Linked DNA regions of Homo sapiens: region 2 is linked to region 1. The links come from fine-mapping of genetic effects on gene expression. A gene starts in region 1. The other region holds a variant in brackets. All regions are shown on one strand. Distances are between the middles of the regions.

Region 1 (5,378 bases):
CTTAATTTATAGACACATGCCAATGTTAGAGAACCCAAATTAAACAGATGCTCTGTTTAGAGAGGTGGAGAGAAAGGAGAATATCACTGCAGGATTATTTTAAATCATTTAAAGAGGGTAACATTTAGTATAAAGTGAGGCATGTCTTCATGAGAAGAATTACAGGCTATTCTAATCCAAGTTGAAGAACAAGGGAAAAGGCTTCCCAAGAAAGTGAAAGGCACAGTGGGAAAGCAGAAGTGGAGAGGCATGGATCTGAATACTCTGGCTTCTCTGCTTTCTAGCTGTGTGTCATCTGGCAAGTTATTTAACTCTTGTGAGTCTCGGTTGCCTTTTCTGAGAAATAGGACTAGCAATACCTGAAATAAGGCACTAAAGTACTCGGCATAGGGCTTGGCACAGAGTAAGAATTCCATACATTGTTGTTGAAAAATGAAAAAACAAAACCAGTCTCAGTATTGGAATACTGAAGAATGCCCAGGTCCAGAGGTGAGGCACTCCTTATCCGTGGGGATATTTAAAGGATAAAGGAAGGAATTGCATATGTAAAACATAATCTCGTCCAAGCAAGGTGGCTCATGCCTGTAATCCCAGCACTTTGGGCGGCCGAGGCAGGTGGATCACGAGGTCAAGAGATGGAGGCCATCCTGGCCAACATGGTGAAACCCCGTCTCTACTAAAAATACAAAAAATTAGCTGGGCGTGGTGGCGCACACCTGTAGTCCCAGCTAGTCAGGAGGCTGAGGCAGGAGAATCACTTGAACCCGGGAGGCAGAGGTTGCAGTGAGCCAAGATCGCGCCACTGCACTCCAGCCTGGCGATAGAGTGAAACTCCGTCTCAAAACAAAAAAGACATAATCTCTACAAGAACTTTAAGACAATTTTAAAACTCAATCTGTAAATAAATATATTTGAAGGTAAAAAAAAAAATCAGGCTGGATGAGGTGGCTCATGCCTGTAATCCCAGCACTTTGGGAGGCTGAGGCAGGTGGATCACTTGAGCTCAGTAGTTCAAGACCAGCCTGGCCAATGTGGCAAAACCCATTTCTACTAAAAATACAAAAATTAGTTGGGCATGGTGGTGCATCCCTATAGTCCCAGCTACTTGGGAGGCTGAGGCAGGAGAATCACTTGAACCCGGGAGGCAGAGGTTGCAGTGAGCCGAGATCATGCCGCTGTACTCCAGCCTGAGCAACAGCAAGACTCTGTCTCAAAAAAATAAAAAATAATAAATAAATAAATAAATCACTAAGCAAGTTTAAACAAAATATTGTCTAATTTTTTAGAACAAAAAAAAACAGAGTATCTTTTTTTTTTTTTTTTTAGACAAGGTCTCACTCTATCACCCAGGCTGGAGTGTAGTGACAACACCATGGCTCAACTGATCTTCCTCCCTTAGCCTCCTGAGTAGCTGGGACTACAGGCGCACACCACCACACCTGACTAATTTTTAATTTTTTTTTTAGAGATGGAGTTTCACCATGTTATTCAGGACGGTCTCGAACTCCTGAGCACAAGTAATCCACCTGCCTCAGCCTCCCAAAGTGCTGGGATTACAGACATGAGCCACTGTGCCTGGCCTGAGAGTATGTTTAAATGCCTACAGAGAGAATGGAAGAAGAAGAAAACAAATTCTAGTTTTGCAAGACTTTTAATGACCCAAGTATCAGTCCCAAAGTTATCCTCATGCTTTCTTTACATTTTCAGGAGCTCATTGCCAAACGCCATACCCTTCTTGTATAGAAAGGAAAGATACTTTGTTGGCCAAATTCCCACTTTTAAAATATAATTAATTAAAACTGATAAAATTTGAATTTTGCTCTGGCTCTCAAGAAAAAGAAAAAAAGTCCAGGCACAGTGGCTCATGCCTGTAATCTCAGCACTTTGGGATGCCAAAACAGAAGGATTCCTTGAGGACAGGAGTTTGAGAACAGCTTGGGCAACAAAGCAAGACCCTGTCTCTACAAAGAAAAAAAAAATTAAAAATTAGCCAGCAGTGGTGGTATATGCCTGTAGTCCCAGCAACTTGGGAGGCTGAGATGGAGGATCAGTTGAGCCCAGGAGGTCAAGGCTGCAGTGAGCAGAGATCATGCCACTGCACTCCAGCCTGGGTGACAGAGCAAGACCCTGTCTCTCTCTCTCTCTCTCACACACACATAAACACACACACACAAACACACACACAGACAAAGAAAGAAAGAAAGGAAAAGAAAAGGAGTGAGATACCATTAAGATAAACCAGAAACCTGAGGAACACTCTCATTACATACAGGAAAACAGCTTCTGTTGTTATTATTTTTTGCATGTGTGCATGCAAAATATCAAGAGGATTTTTTCTGGAAAAGGACAATCCATACCCTTAGCAAGGTAATGAGCTTCTTTGAGATAACTGGAGGAACTGGAGCATCTTCCCATGTCAACACTTGGCTCAATCTTGAAATCCAAAGGCATATCCAAAGAGGTTCCACTCAGAATCCAACAGAACCTTTCTGTAGAATCCAAATTGATTTTCTGAAGTCAGGTGACTACATTTGGGGCCACGCCTGCTTATGCAGCTATCTTGACCATTATGTGCTCAGCAATACCTCACAAGTCACTCTGAGATGAACACTTTGAGCAAACAGGGCCAGGACATCACAGTGACCCAGGCTGTGAAAACACTTCAGGCCAGTCCCTGAGTAGGAATGGACAACAAGGTGGTCACCATGCTGACAGCTATTCCCTGTGTGATTTACTTTATTATGAAGTCTAAATTTGATGCTGAAGTGCTAGCCTAAGCTCACTAACCTGCCAACTTAGAGAAGAAGGTAACCATGGCTAGGATGACTGGGAATCTGATGGACTCAATTAAGAATTTCTACAGATGGGAAAACCAAAACTCCTTAGTGGCAAGAGGCCAAAGATGGTCAGCGAATTGTTGTTTCCGGCTGGTAGGTGACATTTCTTCTATTCGCTAAGCCCATTTTGTGATAACACAGTTTTCCATATTGACAGGATTGTTTTCATCACCAAAGGAAAACCGTGGGTCCATGTTCCTGTGACAATCTCTTTGTCTCATTCCCAACACCCTCTGTTCTGTGTTTAAACCTCTACAAACCAGGCAAACTGGGGACTATGTGTAGGACCCAGACATGGAGGAGAAAGCAGGCATTGTTTCTACTTACCTTATCTGCCCCTCCACTAAGGTACCAGTTAGTACAACCACGTAACACTCACAAGTCCTACACTTCTAAGATCAGCCCTACTGACTTTGTCACGGTAAGAGTTGGCTGTTGGAGGCAATGATTCAACAATCTAAATTCTGATTATTCCTTTTTGTATCTGTCATTTAGAATGTGAATAGTGTACATCTAAAAGCTTTAAGTACATTATCCATCAATTTTTACTACACAAAGCAGTATGCTGCTCTGTCTTCAAACAGCACAATGCTACAGTCAACACAAAGGGCAAAACCATGGCAATATGGCAATTGCAATAGAAACTCACCAACATCTTGGAGTCTCTGGATATCACAGGTGAACAAGTTGAAGGGCCTTGCGACACAGACAAGCAACCCTTTAATTCTAAATCATCTTTTTTTCAACAGTTGGAAGTTGACTGCAGTTGAATAACAGAACAAAAACGGAGCTTCAAAATCATGGCGTGCCTGCTTCTTCTGGGTTCTTTTAACTGCAAGCAATCAGCTTTGAAGAGCACGTAGGGAACTTCTGATGTGATACAAACTTTTGTCTTTTTTTTTTTTTTTGTCTTTTAAGAGCATTCAAAAACACTTGGTCTGGCTGTTTCAATTTTCTCTTTCTCTCCTATTCCTAGCTCAAGAATAACATTTACATATGAAAGAAAATAGGAGATGGCTCAGAATAATATGTCCAAGGCCACGCCCAGGCGTCAGGGATTCATGAATTTTGTATACAGTGTATGATGTTTCTAGATTAAAATATTTTCAAAGGTAACATGATATAGGCTCCCTCTGTAATGACTGCATTTGATTATGCTCTGGTAATTCTATCAGCTAACTTTATCTCAGAAATGTGGGGTACCCACAATGCAGTGCCTCAACTGTAACCATATACCATTCAGTGAGGCTGTCTAGCTTCACCCTGTCATTGTGGGGTGGCAGAAGGGAGACACTGTGATGGGCAACAAGTCAATCCAATACTCCTACAAGAGCCAGATGGATGTATTATTTATAGTCAGTCTTAGGGCTGTCGTCCTTTTGGGAGTGCGCATGAATTTGATGACCAGCTGTTACAAATTTGTTATCCTGAAACTATTTTAGAAGTTGGGGGGAAGGGAGGAAAGCCTTTTAAAAGTGCGAGTAAAGCAGTATTTGGAGAAACTTCCTGCCTGTGTTTTACCAGAAAACTTTGCTGGTTTTCCTTGCTCTTTGGTGAGGTTAGCCCTGTCTTTTTATCCAATTTTCCCATTGATGTAGCCTAGTGTGTGCTGTAAACCACGGACCTTTGCTGTGCTTTGGGAACATTTAGAAAACTCTTACCAATTAATTTTCTGAAAGTAATTCCAGTGATAAACTTTAAAACACATTGATTTAAAGAAGTATAATGTCTTTTTTTTTTTTTTTTTTTTTTTTTGAGAGAGAGTCTCACTCTGTCACCAGGCTGGAGTACAGTGGCGCAATCTTGGCTCACTGCAACATCCGCCACCCAGGTTCACGCCATCTCCCACCTCAGCCTCCCGAGTAGCTGGGAGTACAGGCACGTGCCACCAAGCCCAGCTAATTTTTGTATTTTTAGTAGAGGCAGCATTTCACCATGTTGGCCAGGATGGTCTTGATCTCTTGACCTCATAACCCACCTGCCTCGGCCTCCCAAAGTGCTGGGATTACAGGCATGAGCCACCACACCCAGCCAAAGAAGTATAATTTTTAAATTTTATTTATTTATTTATTTTGTAAAGATAGAGTCTTGTTGTGTCCCAGGCTGGAGTACAGTGGCATGATTATGGCTCACCACAGCCTCTACCTCCTGGGTTCAAGCAATCCTCCTGTCTCAGCCTCCCGAGTAGCTGGGACCACAGGCATATACCACCACACCTGGCTAATTTTTTTTTTCTTTTTTTCTTTTTTTTTTTTTTTTGTAGAGACAGGATCATGCTAGGTTGCCCAGGCTCATCTCGAACTCCTGGGTTCAAGCGATCCTCCTCCTCAGCCTCCCAAAGTGATGTGATTACAGGCATGAGCCACCATACCCAGCCTCGAATAAGTATAATTTGTTTTTAATCTTGTCCCTGAAACGTCTCTGCCCTTCCCTAAACTTTCAAACTTAAGTTTTGCAACCTCCTCCTGGAGATAAGAAGGGCCAGAATATTTTAGGAAAACCCTTCCTCCCTTAACCAAAGACTTATGCTTCTCTCCTCCG
Region 2 (5,378 bases), 220 kb after region 1:
TGAGACAGGAGAATTGCTTGAACCCGGGAGGCGGAGGTTGCAGTGAGCTGAGATGGTGCCACTGCACTCCAGCCTGGCCGACAAAGCAAGACTCCATCTCAGAAAAAAAAAAAAAAAGTGCAGCCCAAGTTCAAGGAGAGGGGATTACATAAGGGCAAGAATATTGCTGGGGAGATCACTGGGGGCTTTCTGAGAGGTCACCTACCACAGTAAATTATATTATTTTTGAATTTCACTACACAATAATGGAGACACTGTATTTGTTATTAATATTTAAAGGAGATTGTTGAGCCTGATAGGTTTGAGAACTGCTTTTAGGTAGTGATCCAGTGTCCAGGAGGTCAGGCATAAAACATTCATAGTGTCTGTTATCAGTGGAGTAGATAGGTAAAATATGCTGGATGCACAGCACGGAGTACAATGCAGCAATCAGAAGCAATAGATTTAGCAACATGGACAGAACTTGAAAACAGTGCTAAGTTAAAAAAGAAACAATAAAATCTATAATATAATACCATTTATAGAAATTAAAAATACTACTTATTTTAAAGGAAAATATAAAAAAGCGTAAACATTAAACACACTAGAAAGTTGCAGTGTAGGAGAAATGGGAATAAGGATAAAAGGAATAAATTGATAAATAAAAAGTGAAGGACTTTGGAAGGGCCAATTGTAATACTATGCCATGAGCTGCGGCATGTGAATAATTCAATCCTGTGAACCTGAGATCCAAAACACAAAGTGGGGGAAAAAAAATTGCAGTGTCAGTCCAGGCGTGGTGGCTCACGCCTATAATCCCTGCACTTTGGGAGGCCGAGGCGGGCGGATCACGAGGTCAGGAGATTGAGACCATCCTGGCTAACACAGTGAAACCCTGTCTCTACTAAAAAAAATACAAAAAATTAGCCGGGCGTGGTGTCGGGCGCCTGTAGTTCCACCTACTTGGGAGGCTGAGGCAGGAGAATGGCATGAACCCGGGAGGCGGAGCTTGCAGTGAGCCGAGATCGCGCCGCTGTACTCCAGCCTGGGCAACAGAGCAAGCCTCCGTCTCAAAAAAAAAAAAAATTGCAGTGTGATAAGCAGAGCAGAAGGAAAACACAGAGTAAAAAGTCATGGTGTGCTTCTACAAGATGTTCTCTGTGGGTTGCCAGAGCCAAGTTTTTTGGGTGGGGATGCAGGAAACGAGGCTGGAATTTGCGTGTGAAAGGCCTTAAATGTTCTCTTCAGAGACTGAACTTCAAACTACAGAGTTCTTGGGAAGTCTTTAAACAGATGTGTCACATGACTTTACAGTTTTTAAAAAGATCACTTTTGCGGGGAAACTAGGATGAGAGATGATTATAATCTGAATTAAGGCAAAGAGGAAGAAGGAACTGATTTAACACAAACTTTACGAGACAATTTACAGGACTTTGTGACAATGAATGTGAAAGCTATTGACAGAAGAATGGAATGCTATTAATATAAATAGGAAAGAAAAAGGGGAAAGAAGTTGGAAGTGGAAGGAAATGAGTTTAGTCTGTGTTTGAGAGTCTGGAGATGTACTAAAACTGATGGAAATCCAGGCCAGGAATTACAGGCCCGGAAATCCACAGAAAAATTAGTACTAGAAGCCGGGTGTGGTGGCTCACGCATGTAATCCTAGCACTTTGGGAGGCCAAGGTGGGTGGACTCCCTGAGCTCAGGAGTTCGAGACCAGCCTGGGCAACATGGTGAAACCCTGTCTCTACTAAAACACACACACACAAAAAGAAAGAAAGAAAGAAAGAAAAATTAGTACTAGAGAAAATGACATGGGAGATACCATCACAAAGTGATAGTCTAGAGATTGCACGGAAACAAAGGCTGAGAGAATAGAGGCAAAGGGCACAGCCTTAGAAACAGTACATCAAGGAGACAGAGTGACAGAAGGAATAGTCAAAGAGGTAGGAAAAGATAAAAGTAGGATAAGGAGGAGGAGAGGGAGGAGAAAAACTGAAAACCCAAAAAGAAAAAGTTTCAAAAAGAAGCAGGTTTGGGCTGATCACTTGAGGTCAGGAGTTTCAGACCAGGCTGGCCAACATGATGAAAACCTGTCTCTACTAAAAATACAAAAAATAAAAATAAAATAAAAAAATTAGCCAGATGTGGTGGCGAGCACCTGTAGTCCCAGTTGCTCGGGAGGCTAAGGAAGAAGAACAGCTAGAACCGAGGAGGCGGAGGTTGCAGTGAGCCAAGATCATGCCACTGCACTCCAGCCTGGGTAACAGAGCAAGACTCTGTCTCAAAACAAAACAAAACAAAACCAACAAAGAAAAGCAGGTGGCATGGAGTGCTCAGTGCCAGAGATTACAAGATTGAAGATTTCTCTTTTTTTTTTTTTTTTTTTTGAGACAGAGTCTCGCTGTGTCGCCCAGGCTGGAGTGCAGTGGCTTGATCTCGGCTCACTGCAAGCTCCGCCTCCCGGGTTCATGCCATTCTCCTGCCTCAGGCTCCCGAATGGCTGGGACTACAGGCGCCTGCCACCGCGCCCGGCTAATTTTTTTTTGTATTTTTAGTAGAGATGGTGTTTCACCGTGTTAGCCAGGATGGTCTCGATCTCCTGACCTCGTGATCCGCCCACCTCGGCCTCCCAAAGTGCTGGGATTACAGGCTTGAGCCACCGCGCCCGGCCACAAGATTGAAGATTTAAGAAAAGGCCTTGGATTTGACAATTAGGAGGTATGGGAATGATCTGGAGAACAAAGTTTGAGGGTGTTGGTGAAGATGGAAGCCAGATTATAACAGGTTAAAGAACGAGTACATAGTTGGATACTGAAGGTAGAAAAGCAAAGAGGAAAGTAGCCTTAAGAGGGCAGTAAAGGCCGGGAGCGGTGGCTCACTCCTGTAATCCCAGCACTTTGGGAGGCCGAGGTGGGC[G/A]GATCAAGCGGTCAAGAGATTGAGACCATCCTGGCTAACATGGTGAAACCCCGTCTCTACTAAAAATACAAAAATTAGCTGGGCGTGGTGGCACGCACCTGTAGTCCCAGCTACTTGGGAAGCTGAGGCAGGAGAATCGCTTGAACCCGGGAGGCAGAGGTTGCAGTGAGCCGAGATCATGCCACCGCACTCCAGCCTGGCAACAAGAGCGAGATTCCGTCTCAAAAAAAAAAAGAAAGAAAAAAGAGGGCATTAGGACCTAGGAATGTGGACTTTGAATAAATGATTACTGAATGAATGAAGCTGTGAACTTATCCCAGCCATTTAGCTAACTGCTCAGAAAATCCTGTTTTTCATTACAGCAAAAAAATGGAATGAGCTTTTAATGAAAAAGGTAATGACCAAAGAGATTTGTTCACAAAAGAATGGAATCAGCAGAGAGGTAATTGATAGAAGGAAGAAATGGAGCTCTATGAGAGTAATTTGGAAGGAATGGCAGGGGTGGGATTATCAGAAATGAGGAAAGCAGGAGCTGGATGGTGGGTCTGAGAGGTGTTAGTGATGGGATATTGGTAGGCAGGTAGCACCACTCAGACTCCAAATCAAGGCAGAAGCTTTGCAGTCCCACCCCTACCTCCACTTTCACCCCTCCATCCCAGGGTGTAGACGTCTACAGTGCTTCTCCCTAATTTGGGCTTAGTGAGGTTATGTCACTTTTAAAATGGCTTTCAGAATTTCTGCAATAATCTTAATGGAGTCTTAACCACACTTCCTATGGTCCATGGTTAAATATGCAGACTCTGAGATCAGATAGGTTGAGTCTGAAATCCTAGGTGTACTATTTATCAGCTATGTTACCTTGAGACAACTTACTTGACCTGCTGGTACACCCATTTCCTCATCTATGACAGGGGGATAATAATAGTTACTAACCATATAAGGTTATTATGAGGTTATTAGATGTGTTAATAACCATAAAGTGTTTTGGGTAGTACCTGGCATGTAGTGAATATTCCATAAGTATCATTGTTTTTATTTTTTTTTATTTTTTGAGATGGAGTTTCACTCTTGTTGCCCAGGCTGGAGTGCAATGGTGCAATCTTGGTTAACGGCAACCTCTGCCTCCCGGGTTCAAGTGATTCTCCTGCCTCAGCCTCCCGAGTAGCTGGGATTACAGGCATGGGCCACCACGCCTGGCTAATTTTGTATTTTAGTAGAGATGGGGTTTCTCCATGTTGGTCAGACTGGTCTTGAACTCCCGACCTCAGGTGATCCGCCCGCCTTGGCCTCCCAAAGTGCTGGGAGTACAGGTATGGGCCACCGTGCCCGGCAGTTGTTTTTATTTAAGGGCCTACCTTTCACCATTATCTTCTGCTGTTCTCCTTCATGAGCTCTGCATTCCAGTTCCACAAGGCCACATTCAACTATTCATGCAATAAATATTCATGAAGCACTTGCAAAATGTTTAGCACTAGCTATGGGATTGTGGATAAAATGACAAAACAAATGAACATTACAATATAGCAGGGGGACATAAGTTAAACAGATATAGTATGCTTTGGAAACATGATCAGGGAAGTAGACTGAAGGTCCGAGAAGTCTACCTTGAGCAAGTGAGGTCTGAGTTGGGACTTGAGGGATGAATGTGAGTTAGCCATTGAAGGAGGAAGGGAGGCTTTACTGTGCCCCAATCTTACCTTACACTTTCCCTCTCCAGGGCTTTGATGGCTCAATTCCCTCCCCACTAGAATGCTCTTTATTTCTGCTTATTGAAATGCTATAAGCTTTTCAGGCCCAGCTAAAATGTCTGCTCCTCAATAAAGCCTTCCCTGAACGCTCCAGCTGAAGGCAGTTTCCCATTTCTACGCACCCCCCCGCCACCCTGGCACTTAGTTTTCATTTTCCTTGGACACTTCTCACTTTCTGCTGTATTTTTTGGTTATTTATAAACACAGCTTATCTTTTTCTACTAAATCTTAAACTTTTTAAGAACAGAGTCTATTTCTCATTCATCTTTGAGTTCCCAAAGGCTAGCACATTCCTTAGATTTAGAAGTCCTGGAACAAATGTTTGTAGCATAAATTAATGCCTATTTGACATCCCTTTTCAAATATGTTGTAATTCAAATGAAGCTATTGTTGCAAGCTGTGCCTTTGAGGCTCAACTTACTCTTTGGTTAAACCAGAATGCCACAGTCATGGTCCCCATGACTGATTAGTGTTCACCACAATAACTGCAACAACCCTAACAAACAGGCCACTGTTCTTGACTGACAGGCGTTTGGCAACAACTACCAATTCTCCAGTGAACACTGAAATGAATTGAGGAAGAACTGTCTGAATTGAGAGTCCCTAGGCCAGTAGGCTCTATTTATTCTTTGCAGTTGGGCTGCAAGAGCTGGTCACCCAGGCTTTGGCCTGATGTGAGACATGACTGCACTGGGTGGCAGTGAGGCTATGAGACTTTCCAGGGTGACAGAA

The links. PIP is the estimated chance that this variant, and not a neighbour inherited with it, causes the effect.
Region 2: its variant is the best candidate, but not a certain one, in a credible set for the expression of AKNAD1 in esophagus muscle (GTEx, PIP 0.89).

The regions. Positions count from the first base shown.
Region 1 is chr1:108,854,572-108,859,949 of GRCh38, forward strand. AKNAD1 (AKNA domain containing 1) reads right to left here and starts at 2,523. Exons shown (of 16, transcript NM_152763.5): 1 at 2,358-2,523. SPATA42 (spermatogenesis associated 42) reads left to right here and starts at 2,646. Exons shown (of 3, transcript NR_034168.1): 1 at 2,646-2,930; 2 at 3,587-3,696; 3 at 3,814-3,953.
Region 2 is chr1:109,078,962-109,084,339 of GRCh38, forward strand. TMEM167B-DT (TMEM167B divergent transcript) reads right to left here. Exons shown (of 2, transcript XR_947688.3): 1 at 4,254-5,378. Among named protein-coding and RNA genes, the nearest start is that of TMEM167B-DT, 3.1 kb to the right of the region's middle. The variant G/A (reference allele first, on the strand shown) is at 2,899.